3 separate regions of the Homo sapiens genome follow, and all the other regions are linked to region 2. The links come from fine-mapping of genetic effects on gene expression. A gene starts in region 2. Each other region holds a variant in brackets. All regions are shown on one strand. Distances are between the middles of the regions.

Region 1 (8,000 bases), 32 kb before region 2:
AAATGACATACAAGGTGAATCCATGGGATAGGAGAATAGAGGGGCAAAATGAGGGAAGTAAAGTGTGAAAAAATAAGGTAACGGAGATGATGAAGATTTGAGGCTACGTGACTGGGAGAATGAAAATGCCCAGAGCTGAGAATAGAAATGACTGGAACATGAAAGGATGAAGTGGTGAATGGTCTGGAAGAAATATTAAAAGTTTGCTCTGAACATATATAATCTGAGGCATCTGAGGAGCCATGTCAATTAGGAGATGCCCCTTGCTCACAATCAGAAAAGGAATGCCGGAGTCAGGCAGACATTCAGGATTCAACATGGAAATTTTGGAGTCACCGTCACATAAGAACAGGTAAGGACAGTTCAAGCGGTGGGATCAGTAAGGTCAAAGGGATACTACAGGATGAAAAAATTAAAAGCAAGGCAGATATTGGAGAAATACATTAAGTTAGTAGAGTCTAGAAAAGCCTTTGAGGGAGAGACAACTAAAGGTGAGAAAGTAAAGAAAACAAGCAAGGGAAAGTGTTCAGGGCTGTAGAGAGAGCGAGCAGATTAAAGATGCAGGATTTACCCTGAAACTAGTGTCCAGGTATCTCATCGCCACAGGCTGTTTCCAAGGACCTATGAATGTGCTCAATGCGTCAGATGTTTTTGCAGGAGTGAGAGATTTAACTGTAATTGGTTAAGACCCCTGTCACTTTCCACTCTGACTTGCCCTTCATCAATGTGTCTGCTGTCATTACTACAGCTATGAGTGAACATTTTTCGGATTTGCCTAAGAAGTATTTGAGATGGGAATATATTAACTCGAGTTGTGTGAACCTGTCTATGTGATTTACAGTCACTTTCGCATATGGTTAAGTAATTGGCAGAGCCCTAGGGTAGGAATGATTTCCAGGAATATCTTCCATCCTTTTGTGCTGACTTACCTGGAGTCATGACTTAAGCACCAGGATTGTAATACAACATGTTCTATAAAGCTCAGGGTGGGGAACATGCGAGTAGTGAAGCAGCCATACATGCAAATACATGGAGCCGTGAACTCTTCTATAGAAAAATCCTTTCAATCATCACACAGAACATTTTAAACAGAGGATTCTCTTTTCTATGCCTGGTCAAAACAGAAATTCTCTTCTCATCAGTTTAACAAATGAATACACACCGGACCAAAACAGAAAATAAATTCTTTTTTGACAGAAATGATGAAAAAATAGACTCTACCAGCACGTCCGTGTTTGTAGAACCTAAACTTGCAGGAGTGCTACAAACAAGTCTGTGTGAAGAGGAACATATTTTATGCATCTCCACTGTCAATACTAAACCATATTAAGATGATTTAAAGAAAATACGGATCATTTTTATACTCCAACTTTCAAAATTACATTACAAAATTTTCATTATACAAAGGTAATCAGGCTTTATATAGTAAAAAATAGATAAGTAATATAAAGATATACAAGGCAGTTAAGAGGAATGTTATATTTTAAAACTGCAATATTTGTAGTATTTGGTAGCTTTTAAAATTTGTAATTGTTGTGACTTATAGTCTCATTGTAATCATTTACTTTTGCATCTAACTTTATATTCATAACTTAGTCTTAAAGAGTATGCTCACACTGTATATGCTTCAGGTTACACAAAACTTGACTCTTCCCCTCATTATGAAGTTTGCCTTCAAGAGCCAATGTCAACAGAGCTGTGGGGACAGAATTCAGATTGCAATGGATTAAAGATAATTAAAACTCTTCATAAAAGACATCATAAAAATAGAAAAAGAAAACCATGAATTGGTAGAAGATATCCACAACACACATTTAACTAACAAAAGATTAGTATTGAGGGTATAAAAAATAGAACTCCTATCAATCAGTAAGAGACAACCCAAGAAACAGAAAAATGGGCTAAAGATAAGAAAAAGCACATCAGAGAAAACATAAATTATCTTCAAAAATTAAAAAAATCTTCAAAATTAAAAATCTTCAAAAATAAAAAAAGCTCAAGCTAATTATAAATGAGGGTAATGAACACACAAAATCATGAGATGTTTATTCATACCCTGCAGACTGGCAAAACACTTAAATATACGATGAAGTACTGTTGAGGTTATGGAGCAATGGGAACTTTCATCAGCTGTGGAGCGAGTATCAACTGGCACAACCACTTTGGAAAACAATTTGGCAATACCAAGCCAGGTTAAAGATTCATGGCCTTGTGAAGCAACAAAACCTTTCCCAGATTTAAAAAATCTGGAAAAATTCCTATACATGTACATAGTCTGTAAGAGAAATAGAAAAAAAAAACCCAGAAATATTCCAAATGTTTTTCTTTTCTTGATTCTTTTTCTTTTTTGAGACAAGAGTCTTGCTCATCACCCAGGCTGGAGTGCAATGACACGATCTCGGCTCACTGCAACCTCCACCTCCTGGGTTCACATGATTCTCCTAGCTCAGCTTCCCGAGTAGCTGGGATTACAGAAGTCCATCACCACGCCCAGCTAATTTTTGTAATTTTAGTAGAGATGGGGTTTTGCCATGTTGGTCAGGCTGGTCTCGAACTCCTGACCTCAGGTGATCCACCCACCTCGACCTCCCAAAGTGCTGGGATTACAGGCATGAGCCACAGCACCCGCCCTCCAAATGTTTTTCAATAGGCAAAGTGTAAGTAAATCGGGTTATATTCATACAACAAACTCCAAAACAACAATGAAAAATGAACAAATTGCTGTCTCATATAAAAGAATCTCAAAATGTTAACTTTGAATAAAGTAAAAGTCCTATAAAAAACATACAAAGAATGTTTTCATTTTTATAAAAGTGATTAAAAATGTGCACAACTAAGCAACAGTGTTTAGGGATGCATACATTTGTAATGAAACTAAATTAATAAATAATTCAATAAAATCCAGGACATTGTTTAGCTCTGAATCAGAGTGCACAGTGTGTTTTGGATGGCACCAGGATGGCCTTCAATATTGTTACTGTTCTATTTTTTATGTGAGCTTTCATTTTATTATTGTTTTTAAAACTATAACCATGTGTTATATTCTTTTGTATGTATAATATTTCACAAAATAAAATCTGTAAAAGAGATTAGAGGCAATAAAAGTACACTAACTTTTAATAAAATATGGATGAAGAAGGTGGTGGTATAAATAACTGACAAACCACAAACATCTCCCTACTCAAGGGTACAAATATAGTCAACAATGAGAAATAATCTTGTTTTAATTTTTCTTAATAGAACTATAAATTATCCTTAGGTTAATACTTGGATACGTAACATCCCATTTTTACACAATATTAGTAGCCTGAATTTACAAAGTTGTCTATTCCTGGATCATAAAAAATTCTCGTAGTATACCTCAACTTTCTCAGTACTATCTCTTTTAGATGGTAAGCTCCAAATCCCAGAGCCTGCCAACAGTCAGCCACGGAGCTATAAAATTCAGGCTCAAGTAACAGGTGTACAGTTTTTCAAGTATAATTCTTACTCCTAAAAAAGATGAAAG[C/A]ATAGTTGGAAATATAATGCCATACAACTGCCTAAAGTAGCACTTACTAGCACAAAAGAAAACACTTGGGCAGCTCAGGATGTAGTAGTTTGAGGATATATACAAAAAGCAGGTTGTAGAAACTTTTGTATCTACCTAACATCATGCTAGTAACTAACTTTTTTTTCTCCAATTTGGGAGCAGCAAAGCAGCTGTGTATGGGAGAAAACAGATTCACACATCTGAAGTCAGAAGTCTGGACAGTCTTAGTTATTTCACTTACAAGTTTGTGAAGTCTACCATTCATGAGGCAACTGGAAATTTGAACACTGACTAGATATATAATGATATTAAGAAATGATTATTATTTAGGTGTAATTATGTCTCCGTTCAAAAGAATAAGTCCTCACTTTAGGGAGATACATACTGAAAGACTTGCAGATGAAATCACGTCAGGATTTTGCTTCAAAATAAGGAAGGGAAGGGGAAGTGAGTGGGAATAGATACGCAACAAAATAGTTCATAAGTCACTAATTGTTGTGGTTGTGTGACAGGCACATGGGGTTAGACTATTCTGCCTATATTTTAAAAATATGTTTAAACATTTATAAAACAAAAAGATACACACACATCCCTTATATACATATTTTTTTTTCTCTAGGCTAATATTTTAAAATTCCATTTTCTTCTAAACTTGCTTTTTCCTCTTCCTTCCATCATGACCCCTTCCCTCTTTCCAGTCCCTTCTCCACACTCCAGCCAGAGTAATTTGTTTTCTCAAATGCAAAATGTTGTTTCAATGACTTTCAATCACTGCCCACTACCTGCAGAATAAAGGCCTCAATTCCTTGTCATAGATTAATGGCTCGAATTCCCACTCACCTCTCCAGAGGATCTCCTGCTTCTACTGAGCCACTGCAATTCACTGAAGAAGTATGCTCTTTCAGCTGTGGCACTCTTAGCCCTGACACACTCTTTACGCAGCCCCTTCTTTATCTGGCTAACTCCTACTTACCCTTAGATCTCATCTGAGGCCTCACTATTCCTTACAAAACTCTCCCTGACAAACAGCTGGCCTACCCGGCCTTCCTATGTGCCGCCCAGCACCTGCACCTAGCTCTAATGTAGCACCTACTACACTGTAAGACAGGTGATTTTACTTATATATCTACCCGAATAGGCTACAATTCCCTGACTTAAAAACATGTCAGGTTCACCTTTGCACTGCCAAGATCTGGAATAGTGCGTGCCACAACTAGAAAGCCCTCAGTGAATATTTGCGCAACTGAGGAATGATCTTATTCTCTCATATTTCCTAAGCCTCTTCATCAAAGAAAGGAAAACCTAACCAAAGTTTGGTTAACAGATGGGCTAATGATAATAATTTTAGTGGAAAGGACGGGAGGGGAGGAGAAGATCTAATATTTACTTGTAATTACTATCTGCCAGTTATTGTTCTAGGCACTCTATTTATATTGTTCGCTTAGTCAGAAAACCCAAGATACTTGTAAAAATACAGATTCCTGGGACACATCCCAGAATTACTAAATCAGAATTTCTTGGGGCAAGACCTCAGGAATCTATTTTTTAATAGATGCCTCATGCGTTTCTGATAGTAAGTCAACTTTAGGCATAACTGGCCAGCAGTAGAGACCAAAAGAAAGTTCATATATCAAGTATATTTTACTATTTGAACTCAATTATTACAAAATGTTTTATTTGATTATGCTCTATAAATTTGCCAATAATACTACTATAGGCAAGAGCACTGACAGTTGTTTCTCAGTCTATAAAATGAACAAATATTCTATTACATTGGAAAATTTAGACAGCTTCATGGCAATGTCTTTTTCTGATATCTAAATGTAACATCATCAAAGACATAAATCGTTTTAGGTAAAAGATGAGTGGTCATCTGCATAAGCAACTAAGGATAAATTTATTAAATTTATTTAAAGTAAATTTATTACATTTACTAACTAGTAATTTATTAAAGTAATCCAATTACTTTACAATTAGAATTTGACAAAAAAAATCATTACAACAAAGAATGTTCTGCTAAAGAATTATTCTTTACAAAATTTGGAACAGAAAAATTCAATGTACTTTTATCATTCAAAAGATAGTACCATACTTTCCAAGATCAAATCCACATTCTGAAACAAAATGGAACAAGTCAATTTCAACAAGAAAAACCTCCCCTCTTCTCACTATTCTAAACTTTTATTATATAATACACTAGAACAAGCTAACCGAATCCAGTATCTTGCTATAGATGTTAGCAGAACAGCCATTACATCTACACAGCATTAGAAATATAAACCACAAACCAGCCTATGTCAAGTACATTCTTAAAATCAATGTTCTATAGCCTCTTAGTTTCTTATTTTCTCCTGCTTGACTATTATTTATCAAGTTTTCATTTGGGAATAGAAAACATGTTTTAATATATGTAGCTTTGTACAAAACCAGTATTTAAGGTTTCACCTAGTTTTATTAGGAAACATTATTCTAATTACAAAACATACCTTTGCGGTAAAAATGAATACATGTCCTACTTAAAATGTTAAAAGGAGTTATTCCTTAATATTTTAGAGCATTCTACAGCCTTGCTACTCAAAGTGTGATGCTGCAGGTCAGCATTACTGGCATTACTTTGTAGCTTGTTTGAATTGTAAAAGTATAGGCCCCATCTCAGGCTTAGTAAATCAGAATTTGCAATGTTAACAAGATCCCCAGGGCATTTATATGAGAAGGAATACTCTGTAATTTTCATAAATCATTTGAGTCCCCTGGGTTCAATATCAGTCATGGACTAATGACCTGTATGACCTTGGGGAATCCATGGGCCCAGGGCTGTCTAATAGAGCTTTCTGGTATGACAGAAAAGTGCTATACCTGAGTGGTCAAATACAGCAGCCACTGAACACAAGAGCCCTTAAAAGTTGCTACTAGGACTGAGGAACTAAATCTTTACTTAATTTTAATTTACATTTGAATAGTACCATGTGGCTATTAGCACAGGTTTAGAAACTATTTATAACATAAAATCCCTTCCAGCTCTAAAATCTTACAATTCTAGATATAGAAAAAATGATTTACAAAATTGTCTTCAAGATACTATTTAAAACAAATGTCTGTTGATCACCTACTACATGTCAAGCACTCAGGCCTCATGAATCAACAAAACCAAACAAAATTCTTATCCTCATGGCCTACAGCCTTGCGGGGAGAAAAAGACAACAAAAATGAATATAATAAATAAAACACATCATTATTAGAAGATAATAAAGCCATGAAAAAATACAGCAGATTAAACAAGGAAGAAGAATGCTGGTATGGGGGGGATGAGGGTTGGTAGCATGTATACATGGGTTGCTAAAAGAAGGCCACTAGGAGAAATTGATATTTGAGCACAGACTGGAAACAGATTAAGAGCTAGCCATGTAAATATTATGGGAAAGATGAACAGCTACTGGAAAGGTCCTAATGCAGACATGGGTTTGATGTGAGAAAGAGCAAAGAGTCCGAGAAGCTGGTTCTGAGTGAGCAATGGCAGGAGGAATAGAAAATGGAGTCAGAGAGGTCAGAAAGGAAACAGGGTGGGGGAACAGAGTCATGGATCACACAGGGAATTGCAGGCCACTGCAAGATCTTTGGCCTTTACTCTGAGGAGACATTGTAAAAGAGCAACATGTCAGGTCTTACATTTTTAAATGATCTCTCTGGCTTCACTGTGTCACCCAGGCTTTGCAGTGGTGTGATCTTGGCTCACTGCAACCTCAAAATCCTGGGGTCATGTGATCTTCCCACCTCCCTCTCGGGTAGCTAGGACTACAGGAATGAGCTACTGTGCCCAGCTAATTATTTATTTTTATTTTTGTAGAGATGGGGTCTTGCTTTGTTGCTCAGGCTGGTCTCGAACTCCTGGCCTCAAGTAATCCTCCCACCTCAGCCTCTCAAAGTGCTGGGATTACGGACGTAAGCCACCATGCCCAATTTGGCTTCACTCTTGAGATCACTCTACAAAGGTACTAGGGCAGGGAGAATAGTTAAGATTTTACTGCTAGATTCCTGGTGAGAATGATGGTGGCATGGTTCACAGTGGTAGCAGGGGAAATGGTGAGAAGTGGCTCAATTCTGGTTATATTTTAAAGGTAGATCTAACAATCACACATGAAAAATAAGAATGTGCTATGACAGAAAGAAGAGTCAGAGTTTATTCCAAAGTTCTGGTCTAAGCAACTGGAAAAATGGAATGGCCATCAACTGAAATGGTGAAAACTATAAATAAAACAGGTTTACAGGGAAATATAAAAGAACTGAGTTTTTGAGATGTCAAATTTGAGATATCTCTTATAAAATCAATTGCAGATATATTACATAGATGTATAAACAAGTCTGGAGTTCCATGAAACTGTCTGAGCTCGGGATATAAATTAGAAAGCCAGTGGCAGATACAGAATACTTACCAGAAATTGGATAAGATAATAAGAGTAGTGAGCATACATAG
Region 2 (8,229 bases):
CTGTCAAACCTAAGAGACCTTTTAAGATGAGAAAGAAAGCACTCACTATGCCCTTTTGATGTGGTTCAGTAGGGCAACAAAATAACCATGCAGTTTGACTTTGTTTTGCTTTGGAACTGGTGGGTTATTACAGGTTGTCTGCAATTACATTTCATTGATGAGGAAATTAAGGCATAGAGAGGTTAAGTGACAGAGAAACACAACCTTTGAGTAGAGGGACCATAGAATTGACACAGATCAAAAATATTACAACCACAATCCTGTATTTTTAACCAACTAAAAAAGGCTATTTTATGTATAAGCTCAAAGTTTATCTAAGCTCTTAAATTCTAAGTTTAATAACCAACTTAGCAAACCTGTTACTTTTGTCCGCTTTAAGCCCTTTGTCTTTTGTCTTAAGTATCAAGAAGCTCAGAATAGAATTTAGTGCCAATGCAGAACACCACTTCCTAGCCTTGGTTTCTGGGGCAATCTCAGGCCTTTCAAAAATTCAGTAGGTTTTAGTTGCCCATCTGTTATATACCAGACAACGCTGTAGATGCTAAAGATACAGACCTGTACAAATAATGTGAAAACTTCTGTCTTGACTTAATTACTTAAGTGTAAGACAGAGTATGTTAGTGCTATGGAGAAAATAAAAAGCAGGAAAAAAGAGAGAGAGCGTGGGGTGAGGCTCAATTTTTAAAAGGGTGGTCAGTGAAAGTCACAGGGCATGACATTTGAATATAGCCCTGAAAAGGAGTGCAGTGAGCAGATAAGAGGGCCATGGAGGGAACCTTCCTGGAACAGGGAAAACCAAGTACAAAAGCCCTGAGGTGAAAGCATGCCCGGTATCTATGACTCATCTTTTTGTTGCTGTTTATTATTTTAAATAATGTATATTCTTCTTTTTTTTTGAGAGGAGTCTCACTCTGTTGCCCAGGCTGGAGTGCAATCATGTGATCTTGGCTCACTGCAACCTCTGCCTCCTGGGTTCAAGTGATTCTTCTGCCTCAGCCTTCCAAGTAGCTGGGATTACAGGCATGCGCCACCATGCCCAGCTAATTTTGTATTTTTAGTAGAGACGGGGTTTCACCATGTTGGTCAGGCTGGTCTTGAACTCCCGATCTCAGGTGATCCACCTGCCTCAGCCTCCCAAAGTGCTGGGATTACAGGCGTGAGCCACCGCACCCGGCCAATAATGTGTATTATTATTTATTGAAAGTCCCAGCAAATACTTTGGAAGAAGGTCAGGCACATACATACAATCAGAAATGCTGCAGACAAGCTTCAGATACTGTGTCACTGCAGAGGAGTTTTTAGTGGTTGTACTGTACACTGCAATGACCACTTGACTATGTCCCTCTGTCTCCCTACTACCATTACTAAAACTTCCTAAAACTAACTTATGAGGTTTAATAAAGAAAAAGAAAACTGCTTTGGGGAAAGGGCCCACCATAAGGAAATCAAACTGCTAGGTAAAGTACCCCAAGCCACAATGACTACCTCCCTTGAATTTCTGGAATGTGTATCCAGCATTTAACAGGAAGTGCTATCTGGAATTGTTACTCTATTGACATCTCATCCCATGCTACCTTGTATTGTTCTTTTGTACACATCTGCTCTCACAGTGACTTCCCTGGAGGCGGGCTTATATTTTGGAAATGTCTGAATCCCATCGCAGGGCAGCGAAATCTGTTTTGAGGATGATGATACAGAAACTACCACAACCAGCAGCAGACATTCCTCCTGTTTTAAGAATCTCTGTAGATAAAGCATGAAAGAAACAACAGTCTCTCAGAGGCTTTTAAATAATCCCAACTATTTTAGCCAACTTACTGTTTATGTAACATACCGTTTTAAGTCTTTGTTTGCATTTTTAGTTAGGGACTGTACACACTTTCAGTCTAGACCCAAGCATGAGTTAGCCAAAAAACATAGAGGAATCACATGGTACGGAGCCCTGTTCAGTTTGTCCCAGCCAATGTTATTAAAAACACTATGATGGGCAAGGGACTCAACATGAAGCTACCACATATGGGACTCTAAGACATTGTCCAGACAGTCTAACAAGACAAGCAGACACGAAAGAAACAACTTCAGTGCATGTAAGATAATATAAGATACTGTGAAAGTATATAAGCAGTGACTTGGAGGGTGAGGCAACGCTTCACAGAAGAGTTGGCACCTGAACACACAGGGTTTTGAAAGATGAATAGGCCTAGGACAATTGGACACAGGATCAAAGGGCATCCAGGATTGTGCAAAACACTGGCAGAAACATCACAGATTGAAAACTGCTGGAAGAACGCATTCACCGTCAGTGAAGGAAAGCTGGTCTGGTGCACTCTCAAGCTTTCCAAGAAAAAAAACCAAGTTTTCAAATAAAAGCAGAGGAGGAAAGTTTCACCAGTGCTTGTTCTGAGAAACCTCTTAGCCTCTCTTTGCTTTGTTTTGCTCTTTCTGTTTTGCTTCCCTCTTAAAGAGTGCTGGCTTAAAACCTCAGTGAAAGAAAAGTACTTCAACTTTACTGTGGAAAAAGGAAACTGAAAAGTAGGCAAAGGCCAAGGGATACATTTTTTTAAACATTCACTCTTTCCTGGAATATACAAATGAAGCAAAATTACAAATTCATGTATTATGGGTCTGAAATATTTATTCCAATTCTTTTCTCCACCAGCTCCATAAATATTTATTCTATGCCCACTGCTTGTTAGTTTCTGGGATACCAGGCCGATGAGGCAGTCTCTTCCTCTCCTCCTTTGAGCAAGCTTGTGCTTGCAATCCTGTATAAGAAATAAGAGGAGGGCAACAACTTGTATCTTGTGCCTTCTACACATGCCAACCATAGCCTGAAGTTCACAGCAAAGTTAAATTCCAGTTAAGTAAACCAGTGAGGTCATAATACACTTAAATAACAACTGAGACGTGAGAAACTAACAGAGATCCTCAGTAAGTGTGTCGGTCACCTCTTCGCGCGAGCAGGGAGATCAGATCGAGAGCAGGACCTCCTCGCCAGTGATTTGGAATGATAAATGGGGAAGAGAAGGGGGTGAAGTTACCTGGGCGCTCAGGTAGACTTTGAGGCACTCCTCGCACACGGCCTTCTTGCAGCAAGGCAGGGGCTTGATGGGCTTGTCTTCCAGGCACACCCGGCACATCAGCACCATGAGGGGCACATAGGGATCCCCTACACCGCCCAGGCCAGAGTAGGGTGGAGCTCCCAACAGGCTGGGCATGGAGAACGGCTCGGGCGCCAGGTAGAACTCCAGCTCGATGCTGCCGCCGTCGGGGGAGAGGGAATCCGTTGGGAGGGACAGTCGGGGGCTGGGGAAGGAAGAGCGGGTGCTGGGAGGGTTCAACACTGGCGGAGCCCCAGGTGGCGACGCGGGCGGCGAGAGCTGCTCCGAGGCGGGGGCCTCGGGCAGGTCGCTCTCCACGCAGTACACGGAGCAGAAGACTTGTCTCTTGGCGAGGGACGGGCGCCGCTGACCCAGCACGTCCAGGACCAGTCCGTCGGCGGCCCCCACGCGGGTCCTGGGCTCCAGCTCTTCGCCGGGGGGCGCCTCCTGCTGTTCATCCCCTCCCTCTTTTCGATCCCCAGCTTCCTCCTCTTCCTCCTCCAGCTCCAACTGCAGTGGCAAGGTCTGGGGATTGAGAGGCCCGGTGAGTGCCAGTCCCGCAGGCTGCGCCGGTGCTCGGCTCTTACTCCAGCCCGGGGGCCCCAGGCTCCTCGCGGGCTCTGGGGCGCTGGTGTCCGCGCAGCCCCAGTCGCTTCCGCAGCCACCGCCGCTCGGCTCCGCGGAGGCGGCGCGCAGCGGGGGCGCCCGGGCGCTGTCCCCCTGAGGCCTCGGGGGCTCAGGGTGGCCCGCAGTGCCACTGGCCAGGGTCTGCGACTCCTGGGGCCCGCCGCCGCCGCTCACCGTGCTCTGCTCCTCGCCCATCGCCGCCCGCGGCCCGCGCCGCCGCTGCCCATCCAGCCGCCGGGACCCCCACCCGGCGCCCGCGGGCAGCGGGGGCAGTGGCTCGGCTCGACTCGCGGCTCCGCTTCTGCTTCCGGGTCCTTCCTCCTGGGCTGGGACGCCCCAAGTCCCCTCCGGGGAGCCCGTGCTCCGAGGCTGCGGCGCGTGGGGAGCCTGGCCCGGCCCGCCGCTCCTCCTCGTACTCTGGCGCGGCGGGGCACCGCCTCGGGGGCGCCGAGGGCCGCTCGCTCTGGGCTCGGGCGCGCCCGCCCCACATGCAGCTCGGGGCGGCGCCGCAGCCCCAGCGAGCCCCAGGCGGGACAGAGGGGTCTGGGAGGAGACGGCCGTCAGTCCCGCGCCATCACCGGTCCCGGCTGCCGGACGCGCGGCCCGAGGGCGGTGGTCAAAGGGTCGAGGGGCCTGTGGCGCCGCCGCGGCGCGCACCAGGAGGTGCAGCCGGAGCGCTGGCCAGCCGCAGGGCCCCTGGGGGAGAGGCCGGAGCGGGCGACCTCCCTCTCCCCGCGCTTCACCTACAGCCCTCCTCGCCGCCCCTCACCCCACCCCTTTGGCGCACACCTCCCCACACGTACACACGCGCGCAGGCACCCGCGCACACACACACGCACACCCTGAGTGGGTGTGATCTAAGAGCTGAGATGCGCTTTCTCGCCCGGAGTTCACACTCAGCCTCAACAAAACCCTCAGAGCAGGCAGGCTCCCCTTTGGTCTCCGCATTCAGTAGAACTTCCTACAAAACTACACTCAGCTCTGGAATTAGTAAACGCTGGCTATTTAGGATGTCGAGTTCAGAGAAATAATGCTAAGGATTATGAATTCTAAATGCTGTATATTACAACTCTGTTTTTCTGCCTAGTGGAGTAGGAAGAATCTTCGAAACCCATAAATAATCGAAAAAGCACTTTCGATCTACTCCTCCAACTGGAATCCTTAGAAGAGTTGATAACTAATTTAAAATTTCTCTCTTTTTCTTCGCCTACAGTGTTCTCTTAGAAGTTTTTTTTTTTAACCCTTTTCAGCATTCCAAAATGGATAGCACAAGGTGGAAAAATGTCCTGACCTAATTAATAAACTGGATCATTAGTGGAAATCATGGGCAGTTTCATTAGCATAACCATATTTATCCTCAAAACTGTTTCCAAAACAACAATTATATGTGAGCCAGGACTTAATTATGTGTTGATCTATCTTTATTTTACAGGAAGTATTACTCACCCAGACACTGGTGTTTTAGTTCCCTAAAGCCAGTGAAAACATTTTTGGGAAGCCAGCCCTTGTTTTGTTTTTTTTCTCCTGAGAGGGAATTCAATTTACACATTCATGTAATAGCAAGGAACTGTAAAGTGTGTAGAATTTTATTTTTTAATCTCGAAGTTGTTATTGGGTTGTTCTAAAATATTTTCCAAATCAGATGCAAATGATACAAAGGTGACTAGCGATGCAAACTAAGAAAGCAGTGTAATGCCAAAGAACATTTCCATCATATATGTGTGTCTGAGGCTCAGTTGCAAGCAAAGGTATGAATTGGATGTCTAAATGCCATGTCATCTATCGGTCTGACCCAAGAATGGAAAATTCTTATTTTGAAGATTAAATGCTATTCGAGGATTCTTTTCTTTTTTATCTCAGCTAAGTGATTTCCTGGTAACTGCTGTTTTCTCCAAATGATACTTTAAGTGCTTATTGTTTTAAAGACAGAGACAAGAAACCTACTTATGTGTGCCTTTTGAGTGTGCCATCTGATGACCAAGCCACTATTCTTTCCAGAGATATAAAAGTAATCTGCATTTTCCAGGTGACAACAGGCTAAGACCAGAGTAACAATAATGGATGCCAAAAAGTATATTCCCACAGCGTCTATTGGAATAAAACCCCTCAAAGTCCTCTTATAGTTTTGGGAACCCCTCCTCACACACATTTTTCACTCGTATTCTGAGAACTTGTTCTTCCAGTGTTTACCATTTTATTCCTTATCCCTTAGGTTCCAGCTTACTGGAAGTGGCTGTCCTCTACACCAAACCCATTAGAAGTCCCTGCTGGGACTCATGATGGCCGCCCATATCTCTGCTGCTTAAAACTGCAGCCCTTTATTTTGCCATGACTTCTTCCCTACAGAATTCATTGGGCCTTTGTGAAAATAGAATAATATGTGGTTCCCTATTTCCACCCTCCAAATTGGCCCAAACTTGCCTGAATCCTTGACCCACCACCCCTGGCATTCAATCTAGTGCTCATGGGACTCCAGCAGCATGGAAGTGAATTAAATTGAAAAGTTAACATCGTGGTTCCACAATGAATTTTCTCTGAAGTGCATGAAGCACCAGTAATGATTGTTTCGATGGGATTAATTATTTAAAGAAGGATTGGTTGAAAATATTTTATTAACCAATATTTAATATTTTAGCAAAAATTCCATTTATCTGCCACAAGCTTAATATTCTCAAAACTCAAACCATCTGCTCCATCTCAGGTTGTACACAACTGTTGATACAACGTAAGTACTATCACTAATATCCTGCTCCTACCAACATAAAGCCTCAAAATGTCCTAATCTGCAGTGAACTGTGTACCTTCCCTAAAATCCAGACTTCAATATCAGAAAACTATGTCAGTTTTAGAATGCTGTTTTTTCTATTATTGCCTTTCTTATCCTGGCATTAAAACATGACTTCTTTTTGGCTCCCTTCAATTTTTTTAAATCATTTTTATTAATGCATAATATTTGAACATATTTGTGGGATATATGTGATATTTTGATATATGCATACCATGTGTGATGATCAAATAAAGGTACACAGGATATTCATCACCTTGAACAGTTATCATTTCTTTGTGTTGGAAACATTTCAAATATTCTCTTCTAGCTGTTTTAAAATATACAATATATAGCTATAGTCAGCCTACTGTGCTATTGAACACTAGAACTTAGTCCTTCTATCTAAGTATATGTTTGTATACATATAACCAACTTCTCTTCATCTGCCCCTGTGTTTCCAGCCTCTGGGAACTATCATTCTCCTTTCTACTTCCATGAGATCAACTTTTTAAACTCCCATATATCAAGAACATGTGATATTTGTCTTTCTGTGCCTGCCTTATTTCACTTAACATAATGATCTCTAGTGCCATCCATGTTGCTGTAAATGACAAAATTTCATTTTTTATGGCTAAATAGTATTTTATTGAATATACATACCATATTTTCTTTATCCATTCATCTGTTGATAGACACTTAGGTTGATTCCATATCAACCTCTTGTAAATAGTGCTATAATAAATATAGGGGTGCAGATGTCACTTTGATTTACTGATTTCCTTTCCTGCTACTGGATAAATACCCAGTAATGAGATTGCTGGATCATATGGTAGTTATATTTTTAGTTTTTTGAGAAACTTCCAGACTATTTTCTATAATGACTATACATATTTATGTTCCCATCAAGAGTGTATAAAATTTCCCTCTTCTATGCATCCTGGCCACCTTTTGTTATTTTTTGTCTTTTTGATAATAGTCATTCTAACTGTGGTAAGATGATGTCTCATTGTGGTTTTGATCTGCATTTCTCTGGTGATTGATGATGCTGGGCATTTTTTAAATAAACTTGTTAGCCATTTGTATGACTTCTTTTGAGAAAGAAAGTCTATATAAAAGAAAGTCTTTTGAGTTGATTTTTGTGATCAACTGTGTGAGTGATAGGTGTCTAGTTTCATTCTTATGCATAGGGATTTCCAGTTTTCTCGGCATCATTTATTGAAGAGAATGTCTTTTCCCCAATGTTTATTCTTGGCACCTTTGTTGGAAATTAGTTGGCCATAAATATGTGGACTTAATAATATTTCTGGATTCTCTATTTTGTTTCATTGGTCTATGAGTCTGTCTGTTTTTATACAGACTTTCTTTTATACAGACAAGAAATGTCTGTTAATGTCCTTTGCCCAATTTTTAGTGCAATTATTATATATATTATACTGTTGAGTTTTTTGAGTTCCTTGTATATTCTGGGTATTAGTCCCTTGTGGGATGAATAGTTTGCAAATATTTCCTCCCATTCTGCAGTTTGTGTCTTTGCTCTCTTGATTGTTTCCTTTGCTGTGCATAAGTGTTTTAGTTTGCTCTAATCCCATTTGTCTATTTTTCCCTTTGTTGTCTTTGTTTTTGCAGTCTTAGTCATAAAATTATTGCCTAGACCAATCTCCTACAGCATTTCCCTTATGGCTTCTTGTAGTAGTTTTATAATTTCAGGATTTACATTTGTATTTAATCCTTTTT
Region 3 (8,286 bases), 440 kb before region 2:
CACAGCCTGGATGTAATCACTCACATTTTGACATTTATTTATGTCTTGTACTGGAATTGGGGAAACTATTTGTTTTGAACTAGGAATTGGATTTTAGACAGAAGAAAGGTATCGGTATAAACAGTTTCATTTTTGGACAAAATGTGCAAAATGTATATTCATTAGGAATCAGTATTCAGACCTTCTCTGATCTTTATTAATTGTTGTAGCGCACCAAGTTGGTAAATTAAGTTATTCTTGGAAATGAAAGCCCACATTGGAGGATAAAAATCATGAGAAACATTTAATAAAAGTATGCAATTTATAGAAATACAGCAAAAAATAATCAGTGTGAGCCATTGTAAGATAATATATTTTAGAGAAAAAACATTTTTAAGTTAATTATGATTATTGTCTCTAAGCTACCAAAGCAACTATATGCTAGCAACTGACATAATTATTGCAGACTGTTCTCAACATCCTTCCATGACCAAAAAAAGCTGAGCAACATTGTCTGGTATGAATCAGATACAGAAACACACTGCCACCACCCACATATATGTTATCCCTTTCCTTACACAAAACCTGGTGAGTTCATACTGGATTATGATGTCTTGATTGATACACCTGACAAAAGACATGATAGAGCTAGAGAAGAACCAAAGGAAAGTAAAAAATATTCAATCTATGGAAGATTTTAATACCAAGAGAAAGTAAAAATAATTAAAATAAATGGACATTCATCTCAAAAGACATAGGGAAAGAGGACACATTTCACTGGCAACTCTTAGAAAAAAACACTTTTAAGAGGTAACAAACTAGCTGTCTTAAACCAGCAGCCATCTTTGTACTTAATGATGCCCTATTATGGGCATTCTCATTAAAAACTAGAACAACTTAAGGACAGTTACCCTAACCATTGTCATTTTTTGTGTGTTCTTGGATTTGCAGCCTATGCAATGAGAGAGGAAATAATCACAAAAGTAATAATTTTGGAATGAAGACAACTTTGTTGGTTTACTCTCTGCCATCTCCTGTCCTGAAGTTAAAAACTGCTGGAGAAAAGCATACAGCCGTGATGACTGTTCTTAGTTAAAATTTTTGCTCACTAATCTCCAGTGGTAGTTTAATGCTGCCCTAAAATTTTTATATATTTACAAATTTCATTCACTTTACCACTTTTCTAGATGATTATTTACATGTTCTGCTCTTGCTGAAATCTTTAATACCTCCTTTCCATGTCATTTTCAGGCTATTTCACTGAACTGAAGCAGTCAAAAGAGAATGCTCATGAGATCCCATCACCACCACTTTACCGAACTACTTCCATATGTGACTATTTACTCTTTCTTCTTTTCTATTATTATTGATGAACTGGCCATGTACCTAGCTAAGGTGGATCCTGCCACTTAGATATTAGATCTTATCTACCCTTTCTCACTCTGAAATATTGTTCCAAGAATTCTTTTCTTGTATCATTACTTTTCCCTGTTTACTAGTGTAATAAGTATAGAAATATGCTGTTATTTTCCCATATTAAAAATTCTCTTGAGTAGGAAGCTCAATATAGTAAAGATGTTAATTCTTTCTCAAATTGATATAAATTTATCAAATCAATTATTTATTAATTTAAATTGATCTACATTCCTCCCAAATTGGTCAGCATTCTAAAAATATCAACATTATGTGTGTACGTAAAGAGATAAGATGTTTCTGAAGTTTAATGAAATTGAATGGGACTTGAAGAACAGAGTTCAAGGAATTGCACTATTGAATATGAAAATCTATTCAAGATGAAGAGTGTTGGAGGAATTACATGATGGATGTTAAGATTTGTTATAAAGTTGCAAGACTAATAATGCTATAAAAAGTAGTCTTCAACCAGGTGCAGTGGATCACATCTGTAATCCCAGCACTCTGGGAGGCCATGGCAGGCAGATCACTTGAGGTCAGGAGTTCAAGACCAGCCTGGCCAACATGGCAAAACTCCTCTCCATAAAACATACAAAAATTAGCCGGGTGTGGTGGCACGTGCTTGTAATCCCAGCTACTTGAGAGGCTGAGGCATGAGAATCGCTTGAACCTGGGAGCCAGAGGTTGCTGCGAGCTGAGATTGCACCACTGTGCTCCAGCTTGGACCACAGGGCAAGACTCCATCTCAAAAATAAGAAAAAAAAAAAAAAGGAAACAAAAAGTAATCTTCCAGATTAACAGAGCTGCAAGAATTGCATTGCCAAATATTATGACTTATAATTTACAGAAATTGAGATGGTCAGATATTTGTGTAAGAATAGACAGGTTAATGAAACAGAACATGAAATACAGACAAATATTCACATGTATATGGTCACTTGATTTTTGACAAAAGTATCACTGCAGTGTATAAAGGAGGTTCTTTTTCATAAATGGCATTGAATCAACTATATGCTCATATTGTAAAAATGACTCCTAGCTCACACCATATACTAAGTCTCTTCCAGATGAACTGTACTCTTTCCCGTTTCAGTTAATGGACACTATGTCCTTCCAATTGCTCAGAACAAAATTTTTGGAGTCATCCCAATCCCTCTTTTTCTCTTTTATTTCACACTGAATACATTGGCAAATTATTTCAGGTCTTCCTTATAGTGTATCCAGCATTAAATCAATTATCACCATTTTAAGACTATGTGTTGGTCCTAGGTATTATTTATTCTGTCTTGCCTAGATTATTACAACAACCTCTGTGTTAGTTGGGTTCCTCCAAAACCTGACTCTAAGAGGGTAATCCCAGGAAGCATGGTAGGATAGTGGGAGAGTGTAATAGGAAAAGCCGATGAAGCGTGCATGGATGAGTGAGTTAATGCTGTTTGACACTGAAGGCTAGTTCTACAGGGCACCCTCTAATAGACTATATAGAAAACACGTCAGAATTGTCTCACTGAGGAAAATTGGAGTCTTTAGGCACCAACTCTCTTCCGAACTTGGTAAGGGTCAGTTCTAGGCATACGTCCCTGGCACTTTCGTGCTCACTGCTTTTCAGGCAGAGAAAAAGGAAGCAGTTAATATACGTGGGGATTGTCTACATACAGGTGTCTCAGGGTGAACCAAGGCTATAGGAAGGGGTGACTACAACTTCTACTCTACTTTCCAACTGGTCTTACTTCTGTCCTTTTAAATCTGGTCTTAACACAGTCAGAACCACAGAATCTATGGCATCTCATGCCACTTTTATGCTGAAAATCATCCAACATCTCCCCAAATCACTCCAAGTAAAAACTCTAAATACCATCCATAAGAACCTCCAAAATCTGATCTTTCATTACATTAAAAATATTTTATATATGACTATTCTGTTTCAGATTTGCTCTGAGTTCCTTAGTCAGAAGTTACTCTTTTAGTGAGGCCCTCTACTCCAAAAATTTCAACACCCACTCTTGTTATTTTATATGCCTCTTCTCTGCTCAATTGTTCTTCCTTTGCTTTAAGCACCATTTATCCTAGTTTATACATTATTTTTGTAAAATTTGGTTTATTGCTCTTCTCTCCTGCTGGAACTATAACCTCCATAATCTGTTTTGGGTCTTTTTGTTGTTTTTCATTTTTTGATTGCTTCAGTACTGTATTCTCAGTGCTTATTAAGTTTGGCTGACACATAGTAGATACTTACTTGTCATTGAATTAATAATGTAATTTGTATATAATATGATTTTCTTTTGACAAAATCCAAGATAAGCTAATAATTAATAAAATATGCTTGTAAGAAGCAGTTACAAGGCATAATAAAAATATTAGGCCTAATAAAAATCTAATAATCTAATTGTTAAAAGATCTAGTAATACTTTGTCAAGAAATGTCTGAGTTTATGCTAAGAGAACAAATATTTACTGAGCTATAAAAGAAGGTTTTACGATATGGAGAAATATACCATATTTCATGGAAAATGAAACATGAAATATGTTTTTCTTTCTTTTTTATTATTATACTTTAAGTTCTAGGGTACACGTGCACAATGTGCAGGTTTGTTTCATATGTATACATGTGCCATGTTGGTGTGCTGCACCCATTAACTCGTCATTTACATTCGGTATATCTCCTAATGCTATCTCTCCCCCCTCCCCCCACCCCACAACAGGCCCCAGTGTGTGATGTTCTCCTTCCTGTGTCCAAGTGTTCTCATTGCTCAATTCCCACCTATGAGTGAGAACGTGTGGTGTTTGGTTTTTTTTGTCCCTGTGATAGTTTGCTGAGAATGATGGTTTCCAGTTTCATCCATGTCCCTACAAAGGACATGAACTCATCCTTTTTATGGCTGCATAGTATTCCATGGTGTGTGTGTGCCACATATTCTTAACCAGTCTATCACTGATGGACATGTGCGTTGGTTCCAAGTCTTTGCTATTGTGAATAGTGCCGCAATAAACATACGTGTGCCTGTGTCTTTATAGCAGCATGGTTTATAATCCTTTGGGTATATACCCAGTAACGGGATGGCTGGGTCAAATGGTATTTCTAGTTCTAGATCCTTGAGGAATCGCCACACTGTCTTCCACAATGGTTGAACCAGTTTACAGTCCCACCAACAGTGTAAAAGTGTTCCTATTTCTCTATATCCTCTCCAGCACCTGTTGTTCCCTGACTTTTTAATGATCGCCATTCTAACTGGTGTGAGATGGTATCTCATTGCAGTTTTGATTTGCATTTCTCTGATGGCCAGTGATGACGAGCATTT[T/C]TTCATGTGTCTGTTAGCTGCATAAATGTCTTCTTTTGAGAAGTGTCTGTTTATATCCTTCGCCCACTTGTTGTGGGGTTGTTTGTTTTTTTCTTGTAAATTTGTTTGAGTTCATTGTAGATTCTGGATATTAGCCCTTTGTCAGATGAGTAGATTGCAAAAATTTTCTCCCATTCTGTAGGTTGCCTGTTCACTCTGATGGTAGTTTCTTTTGCTGTGCAGAAACTCTTTAGTTTAATTAGATCCCATTTGTCAATTTTGGCTTTTGTTGCCATTGCTTTTGGTGTTTTAGACATGAAGTCCTTGCCCATGCCTATGTCCTGAATGGTATTGCCTAGGTTTTCTTCTAGGGTTTTTATGGTTTTAGGTCTAACATTTAAGTCTTTAATCCATCTTGAATTAATTTTTGTATAAGGTGTAAGAAAGGGATCCAGTTTCAGCTTTCCACATATGGCAAGCCAGTTTCCCAGCACCATTTATTAAATAGGGAATCCTTTCCCCATTTCTTGTTTTTGTCAGGTTTGTCAAAGATCAGGTGGTTGTAGACATATGTGGTATTATTTCTGAGGGCTCTGTTCTGTTCCATTGGTCTATAGCTCTGTTTTGGTACCAGTACCATGCTGTTTTGGTTATTGTAGCCTTGTAGTATAGTTTGAAGTCAGGTAGCGTGATGCCTCCAGCTTTGTTCTTTTGGCTTAAGATTATCTTGGCAATGTGGGCCCTTTTTCGTTCCACATGAACTTTAAAGTAGCTTTTTCCAATTCTGTGAAGAAAGTCATTGGTAGCTTAATGGGGATGGCATTAAATCTATAAATTACCTTGGGCAGTATGGCCATTTTCATTATATTGATTCTTCCTATCCATGAGCATGGAATGTTCTTCCATTTGTTTGTGTCCTCTTTTATTTCGTTGAGCAGTGGTGTGCAGTTCTTCTTGAAGAGGTCCTTCACATCCCTTGTAAGTTGGATTCCTAGGTATTTTATTCTCTTTGAAGCAATTGTGAATGGGAGTTCACTCATGATTTGGCTCTCTGTTTGTCTGTTATTGGTGTATAAGAACGCTTGTAATTTTTGCACATTGATTTTGTATCCTGAAACTTTGCTGAAGTTGCTTATCAGCTTAAGGAGATTTTGGGCTGAGACAATGGGGTTTTCTAAATATACAATCATGTCATCTGCAAACAGGGACAATTTGGCTTCCTTTTTTCCTAATTGAATACCCTTTATTTCTTTCTCATGCCTGATTGCCCTGGCCAGAACTTCCAACAGTATGTGCGATAGGAGTGGTGAGAGAGGGCATCCCTGTCTTGTGCCAGTTTTCAAAGGGAATGCTTCCAGTTTTTGCCCATTCAGTATGATGTTGGCTGTGGGTTTGTCATAAATACCTCTTATTATTTTGAGATACGTCCCATCAATACCTAATTTATTGAGAGTTTTTAGCATGAAGGGCTTTTGGATTTTGTCAAAGGCCTTTCCTGCATCTATTGAGATAATCATGTGGTTTTTGCCTCTGGTTCTGTTTATATGCTGGATTATGTTTATTGATTTGCATATGTTGAATCAGCCTTGCATCCCAGGGATGAAGCCCACTTGATCATGGTGGATAAGCTTTTTGATGTGCTGCTTGGATTATCAAAAATAAAATTGAGGATTTTTGCATTGATGTTCATCAGGGATATTGGTCTAAAATTCTCTTTTTTTTGTTGTGTCTCTGCCAGGCTTTGGTATCAGGATGATGCTGGCCTCATAAAATGACTTAGGGAGGAGTCCCTCTTTTGCTATTGATTGGAATAGTTTCAGAAGGAATGGTACCAGCTCCTCCTTGTACCTCTGGTAGAATTCGGCTGTGAATCCTTCTGGTCCTGGACTTTTTTTGGTTGGTAGGCTATTAATTATTGCCTCAATTTCAGAGCCTGTTATTGGTCTATTCAGGGATTCAACTTCCTCCTGGCTTAGTCTTGGGAGGGTGTATGTGTCCAGGAATTTATACATTTCTTCTAGATTTTCTAGTTGATTTGGGTAGAGGTGTTTATAGTATTCTCTAATGGTAGTTTGTATTTCTGTGGGATCAGTGGTGATATCCCCTGTATCAGTTTTTATTGCATCTATTTGATTCTTCTCTTTTTTCTTCTTTATTAGTCTTGCTAGCAGTCTATCAATTTTATTGATCTTTTCAAACAACCAGCTCCTGGATTCGTTGATTTTTTGAAGGGTTTTTTGTTTCTCTATCTCCTTCAGTTCTGCTCTGATCTTGGTTATTTCTTGCCTTCTGCTAGCTTTTGAATGTGTTTGCTCTTGCTTCTCTAGTTCTTTCAATTGTGATGTTAGGGTGTCAATTTTAGATCTTTCCTGCTTTCTCTTGTGGGCATTTAGTGCTATAAATTTCCCTCTACACACTGCTTTGAATGTGTTCCAGAGATTCTGGTATGTTGTGTCTTTGTTCTCATTGGTTTCAAAGAATATCTTTATTTCTGCCTTCATTTCGTTATGTACCCAGTAATCATTCAGGAGCAGTTGTTCCGTTTCCATGTAGTTGAGCAGTTTTGAGTGAGTTTCTTAATCCTGAGTTCTAGTTTGATTGCACTGTGGTCTGAGAGAGAGTTTGTTATAATTTCTGTTCTTTTACATTTGCTGAGGAGTGCTTTACTTCCAGCTATGTGGTCTATTTTGGAATAAGTGCGATGTGGTGCTGAGAAGAATGTATATTCTGTTGATCTGGGGTGGAGAGTTCTGTAGATGTCTATTAGGTCTGCTTGGTGCAGAGCTGAGTTCAAATCCTGGATATCCTTGTTAACTTTCTGTCTCATTGATCTGTCTAATGTTGACAGTGGGGTGTTAAAGTCTGCCATTATTATTGTGTGGGAGTCCAAGTCTCTTTGTAGATCTCTAAGGACTTGCTTTATGAATCTGGGTGCTCCTGTATTGGGTGCATATATATTTAGGATAGTTAGTTCTTCTTGTTGAATTGATCCCTTTTCCATTATGTAATGGCCTTCTTTGTCTCTTTTGATCTTTGTTGGTTTAAAGTCTATTTTATCAGAGACTAGGATTGCAAACCCTGCTTTTTTTTTGTTTTCCATTTGCTTGGTAGATCTTCCTCCATCCCTTTATTTCGAACCTATGTGTGTCTCTGCACATGAGATGGGTCTCCTGAATGCAGCACACTGATGGGTCTTGACTCTTTATCCAATTTGCTAGTCTGTGTCTTTTAATTGGAGCATTTAGCCCATTTACATTTAAGGTTAATATTGTTATGTGTGAATTTGACCCTGTCATTATGATGCTAGCTGGTTATTTTTCTCGTTAGTTGATGCAGTTTCTTCCTAGCATTGATGGTCTTTGCAATTGGGCATATTTTTGCAGTGGCTGGTACCAGTTGTTCCTTTCCATGTTTAGTGCTTCCTTCAGGAGCTCTTTTAGGGCAGGCCTGGTGGTGACAAAATCTCTCAGCATTTGCTTGTCTGTAAAGGATTTTATTTCTCCTTCACTTATGAAGCTTAGCTTGGCTGGATATGAAATTCTGGGTTGAAAATTCTTTCTTTTAAGACTGTTGAATTTTGGCCCCCACTTTCTTCTGGCTTGTAGAGTTTCTGCCAA

Which allele goes with the higher level. Alleles are on the strand shown, and positions count from the first base shown. SD is a standard deviation of normalised expression in the study named. Not every link is listed here.
As copies of A replace C in region 1, the expression in skeletal muscle of the gene that starts at base 3,441 in region 2 goes down (large effect, 0.90 SD a copy in FUSION).

The links.
Region 1: its variant is fine-mapped to the expression of RNF217-AS1 in skeletal muscle (FUSION, PIP 0.95).
Region 3: its variant is fine-mapped to the expression of RNF217-AS1 in esophagus muscle (GTEx, PIP above 0.99).

Annotation. Positions count from the first base shown.
Region 1 is chr6:124,990,271-124,998,270 of GRCh38, reverse strand. The region is part of intron 1 of RNF217 (ring finger protein 217); the gene reads right to left. Among named protein-coding and RNA genes, the nearest start is that of RNF217-AS1, 31 kb to the right of the region's middle. The variant C/A (reference allele first, on the strand shown) is at 3,509.
Region 2 is chr6:124,958,239-124,966,467 of GRCh38, reverse strand. It overlaps RNF217-AS1 (RNF217 antisense RNA 1), which reads left to right and starts at 3,441. Exons shown (of 7, transcript NR_026876.1): 1 at 3,441-3,645. RNF217 (ring finger protein 217) reads right to left here and starts at 4,031. Exons shown (of 6, transcript NM_001286398.3): 1 at 3,042-4,031. The coding sequence starts at 3,923.
Region 3 is chr6:125,397,883-125,406,168 of GRCh38, reverse strand. The region is part of intron 1 of LOC102723341 (a long non-coding RNA gene); the gene reads left to right. Among named protein-coding and RNA genes, the nearest start is that of HDDC2, 100 kb to the right of the region's middle. The variant T/C (reference allele first, on the strand shown) is at 4,691.